Linked DNA regions of Homo sapiens: region 2 is linked to region 1. Evidence: fine-mapped expression QTL. A gene starts in region 1. The other region holds a variant in brackets. All regions are shown on one strand. Distances are between the middles of the regions.

Region 1 (2,804 bases):
GAGAGGTGAAGTAAGTTGCCCACAGCCACACAACTAGTAAATAGCCCAAACAAGCTGGATTCCCAGTTAGACTCCGTTAATAGCACTGCTCTTTACCTTAAGTCATTACAATGCCTAATATGAAATAGAATCGCTTCTTTCTTAGGGTTCAAGTGGTTAATTATTTAATGTATTCATTCAACAAACCATCATCGAGGACCTCTTACAAGCCAAGTACTGTGCTAAGTGCTAGAGTTACGGCGGTGATTCCTGCCCTTAAAAAGTTTTAGTGGGAGAAACAACAGGTAACCAGGTCATTGCCAAAACAACAAAAATAATCATAATAAAGCAGGCTAAAGCATATTTAACTGGCCGGGGTTTTGACTATTTTAGCAAGCATGATCAGAACGGTTGAGGAGGGAGGCCAGCAGCTTGGCCGGTTCAACAAACAAGAAAAAACCAGTGAGGGTGGAGCTAAGATACCAGAGGCTGATTACGGTTAAGAATGTTCTTGAAGGTAAGGACCAGATTCTCATTTTCTATATCCTGGGGCATCGGTCAGCATGGAATCTGGATTCTAGCACATGTGAATTTCGGCTTGAAATGACCTAATGCCTTTTCCCTAGTTCCTTCGTGTGTCAAATACGCATGGTTACCGCTACCAGAGCTGTAGTGGGGCTTCAATGAGGCCATGAGCATCTCCATAAAGATGAACTACAGTGTGTGCAAAACTAAAGGCAAAACCTGGTCCCCACACGCCCTCCCAGGTGGTCGCTTTCCGTGCCGAGGCCCCTCCAGAGGTGCCCCGAGAACCTCACCATCGCACCCCAAACTTCCAGGGAAGGGCCTCTCCCGAGAAAGCCCCCACGCCCCCACCCCGCGCCATCATTCCCGAATCTGCCCTCGGCCCCTCCCCGCAGCACGCTCGCAGGCGGCACATGTCAACCAAAACGCCATTTCCACCTTCTCTTCCCACACGCAGTCCTCTTTTCCCAGGGCTCCCCCGAGGAGGGACCCACCCCAAACCCCGCCATTCCGTCCTCCCTGCCGCCCTCGCGTGACGTAAAGCCGAACCCGGGAAACTGGCCGCCCCCGCCTGCGGGGTTCCCTGGGCCCGGCCGCCCGAGCCCGCACTGCGGATCCCGCGCCTCAGGGCCCGGCCGCCACCTGCCGCGTGGGCCTGAACCGGCCAGGGCCGGCAGGCCGAGCTGCTCACCACGACGCCAGGGCTGCGGGTCGCCATAACGGAGCCGGCCGGCGCGCGGGCTGACTGCTCAGGAGGAGGAAGCCGGTGGCGGAGCAGAGGAGGAGGCGGAGGCGCAGCAAGAGGCGGCGCCGCGCGGGAAAGCCGAGAGGTTCGCCTGAGGGCTCGTCGCAGCCGCCTGAAGCTGAGGAGAAGCAGGCCCCGCCCTCTGCCCGCCCCGCCACGCCCCGCAGGCCCCGCCCCCGGCCCCGCCCGCGCGCCTACGCCGGCGCCTACCAGTTTGCAGGCTCACTAGGTAGCCGTGGGAATTTTCTCCCAGAAGAAGCCGAGGCTCCCCCAGCGAAGCCCCTTTCCCTCCCAACTCAGTCTCCTATTCAGAGGGCTCCCTGATTCCCAAACCTACCGGCGCGCGTTGCTTCATGGCGGCCGTAAACCGGGCCCCGGCTCTTCGGGTTCCAGTCATCGCGTGAATCCTTGGACCAGACGTCCCATTCCCAAGACCTTGCACTACCTGTGGCTTCCATTTTCCTGACTCTTGGCCCAGTGCTTCCCCAAACCCTTAACTGGTTGTAACAGTTGAGACCTAGAGTCCTAGAGTCACCCAGATCAGGGTACACATCTGAGAGGACACTTAACTGCTCTGTAGTTTTGTACAAATCAGACTCTGAGCCTCTATTTTTGCCTCACTAAAATGAGCATATTAGCCCGGCGCGGTGGCTCATGCCTGTAATCCCAGCACTTTGGGAGGCCGAGGCAGGTGGATCACTCAAGGTCAGGAGTACGAGACCAGCCTGGCCAACATGGCGAAACCCCATCTCTACTAAAAATACAAAAATTAGCTGGGCGTGGAGGCGGGCGCCTGTAATCCCAGCTAGTCCGGAGGCTGAGGCAGGAGAATCACTTGAACCCGGGAGGCGGAGGTCGCACTGAGCTGAGATCGCACCACTGCACTTCAGCCTCCGCGACAGAATGAGACTCCGTCTCAAAAATAAATAAAAATAAAAATAAATAAAAATTTAAAAATAAAATGAGCATATTAACAATACATAAACAGGATCATTTTGAGTATTAGAGGAGTATAGGTATGCGTGTGTGTATGTATATATATATGCACTTAGGACAGTACAGTCAGCAAATGGGAACTACTGTTATTACTACTGATCTTTATTTTTGCCCACACAAGTTCTTATATTGAATCTGAAAACAAAAATATGTTCCCCTGCTAATTAATTCTCAGATAGGTCAGGTAAGCAAGCAACAGTTGCTCCAGCAACACCATTTCTTATATACTCAACCCTATAGCTCCAGCATCCACCACAGTGCCCAGCACATAGTTGGTGGCCTCCCTCTTATTAAGGACGCTGAGGGGTATGTGATGGCAGGAGATTTGTAAAACTAGGCAAGTCATTGAGCTTCTCTGGACCTCAGTCTCTTCATCTAAAAAATGAGAATAATAAACCTGGGTAACATGGTGAGACTCAGTCTCTACAAAAATGAAAAATTATCTGGGCCTGGTGGCCATGTGCCTGTAGCCCCAGCTACTTGGGAGGCTGAGGTGGGAGGATGGCTTGAGCCCAGGAGGTCCAGGCTGCAGTGAGCCAAGACTGTGCCACTGCACTCC
Region 2 (2,804 bases), 70 kb before region 1:
ATTGATGGGTGAATGGATGAACCAAATATCCATACAATGGAATATTATTCAGCCTTGGAAAGGAAGGAAACTGAGACATGCTACAAGGTGGATGAACCTTGAGGACATTATGCTAAGTAAAATAATCCAGAACCAAAAGGACAAATATCGCATGATTCAACTTATAAGAGTTATGTCCCCATATGAGTAGCACAACTCATAGAGACAGAAAGTAGAGTGGTTCTTGCCAGGGGCTGGGGTAGGAGGGAGAATAGAGTTAGTGTTTAATATGTATAGAATTTTAATTTGGGATGATGGGAAGGTTCTGGAGATGGATGGTGGTGCTGGTTGCACAACAATGTTAATGTGCTTAATGTCAGGGAACTGTATACTTAAAAATGGTTAAAATGGTCAATTGTATGCCATATAAATATAACCACAGTAAGAAGAAATGGGGAAAAATAAATATATGTTGGAAGGGTCAATTAATTTAAATAATTAATTTAAGAAATTAAATATTTAAATTAAAATATTAAATATTTTTAAAATACTTATATAAAAATAATAAATGGCTGGACACAGTGGCTCACGCCTGTAATCCCAGCACTTTGAGAGGCCAAGGTGGCAGATTGCTTAGGTCAGGCGTTCAAGACCAGCCTGGGCAACATGGGGAAACCCCATCTCTACTAAAAATAAAAAAAATTAGCTGAGTATGGTGGCAGGCGCCTGTAATCCCAGCTACTCAGGAGGCTGAGGCAAGGGAATTGCTTGAACCTGGGAGGCAGAGGTTGCAGTGAGCTGAGATCGTGCCACTGCACTCCTGCCTGGGCAACAGAGTGAGACTCCATCTAAAAAACAAACAAACAAACAAAACAAAACCAAGAGGAGGGAGTCGAAGTGCATGGGGGTCGGGAGAGTCTGCTCATCACGGGAGTCTGTGCTTGAGTGGGTTGAAGATGATGGCCTTACAGGGGGATGACCTGGAGCAGGGAGTAAGAGCCCAGGAAGGGTGAAGAGATCATCCGTGTGGAGGGGCCACCCAGTGTGGCATACAGAGCCTGAGGAGGGCGTCCACGCATGGGGCTAGCCTGGCACAGGTGTTAGAACCTAGAAGGTCAGCCTGGGCAACATAATGAGACCTCATCTCTGCAAACAAATATAAATAAATTAAACAAAAATAAATAAATAAGCTGGGCATGGTGGCTTGCACCTGTGGTCCCAGCTACTTGGGAGGCTGAGGTAGGAGGATCGTTTGAGCCAGGGAGGTCGTTGCAGTGAGCCTTGATGGCACCACTCCACTCCAGCCTGGGCGACAGAGCGAGATCCTATCTCAAAAAAACAGGACCCTAGAAGGTCAAGAATGGTGTCTGCAAGCAGGGTGTATAGGGCATCCACACAGGATGGTCTACTGGGGACTATCTGAGTCTGAGCAGGGAGGAGAGGGCATCCGTGTGGAGGGGCAGCCTGATGTGAGGTCTAGAACCCAAGCAGAGTGAGGAAGACATCCATGCC[G/A]GAGGCAGCCAGGCAGAGGGACTCAGAGTCCAAGTGCAGCCAGTAGGATGTCCACGTGGGGACCAGCTTGTCCTGGAGAGTCAGAGGCGGAGCTAGGGAGTCAGCATCTCCCTGAAGAGGCAGCCTGGCAAGACGGTGTCAGACATGAGCCGGGTCATGAGGGCATCTACACAGGGGCCGCTCGGCATGCAAAGCCAGAGCCCAAGTGGAGTAAGGAGGGTGTTTGCCAGGGGTGTGGGGTGGCCTCCTGCAGGTTTCCAAACCTGAGATAAAAGGAGAAGGCGGCCGGGAGCAATGGCTCATGCCTGTAATCCCAGCACTCCGAGGCAGGTGGATCACCTGATGAGGTCAGGAGTTTGAGACCAGCCTGGCCAACATAGCAAAACCCCGTCTCTACTAAAAATACAAAAATTAGCTGGGCGTTGTGGTGCACGCCTGTAATCCCAGCTACTCTGGAGGCTAAGGCAGGAGAATCGCTTGAATCTGAGAGGTGGAGGTTGCAGTGAGCCAAGATTGCGCCACTGCACTCCAGCCTGGGTGACAAGAGTGAAACTCCGTCTCAAAAAAAAGGGTGTGTGTGTGGGGGAAAGGCACCCACTGGGGGTCGGCATGGTGAGCGAGGTGAGGCCAGCCATGTCAGGGGTGGGGCCCAGTGTGGCTGTCAAAGGCCAAGCCAGCTGAGGACACTACTGCCAATGGGTAGCCTGGCCTGGGGTGTCAGAGCTCAAACCGGGGAAGGAGGGTGGGCTAGTGTTTGATGTCAGATCCTGAGGTGTCAGTAGCTCACCCATGTGGTCGGGGGCAGCCTGGCATAGAGTGTCAGAGTGTGGGTGGGGCATATAGGGTATCCATGCCATGGGGTGGCCTGGAGCATTGTTTCAGAGCCCAAGCAGGGTTCAGAGGGCGGGCGTACATGTGGAGGGCAGCCTGGCATGGCCAAATCTTGGCCCAAGTGGGCTGAGAAGGCCATCAATATGCAGAGTGGGTGGGACTAGTATGAATTCTAGAACACCCGATCCTAGTCACAGTTAACACAGCTGAGGATGGGAATGACGTGTCAAATGAAAACCGGGACAATTAGTAAAAGTCTAAACGCATGACAACCCCACCATCCCCACCCCTGCTGCCCTTCCCCATTGAGCTCCCTGGAAACCACCTTATTGCCCTGAGGAGTAGGCTGGCTTTTACTCTCCGTAGCAGATGTCTCTAGTACCTCTTGTCCCTTCCCCTTGAGCCCCACCGATTTCAGCTGCTGAAGTGCACTGTCTTCTACAAGATCAGCCTGACCTCATGCAGGCAGCACAGCGTTTGCC

Evidence for each region. PIP is the estimated chance that this variant, and not a neighbour inherited with it, causes the effect.
Region 2: its variant is the best candidate, but not a certain one, in a credible set for the expression of HPRT1 in blood mononuclear cells (TOPMed, PIP 0.69).

The regions. Positions count from the first base shown.
Region 1 is chrX:134,458,730-134,461,533 of GRCh38, reverse strand. It overlaps HPRT1 (hypoxanthine phosphoribosyltransferase 1), which reads right to left and starts at 1,369. Exons shown (of 9, transcript NM_000194.3): 1 at 1,196-1,369. The coding sequence starts at 1,222. RefSeq lists silencers at 1,098-1,277, 1,378-1,497.
Region 2 is chrX:134,529,170-134,531,973 of GRCh38, reverse strand. No RefSeq gene overlaps it. Among named protein-coding and RNA genes, the nearest start is that of MIR450B, 9.7 kb to the left of the region's middle. RefSeq lists a silencer at 2,751-2,804. The variant G/A (reference allele first, on the strand shown) is at 1,492.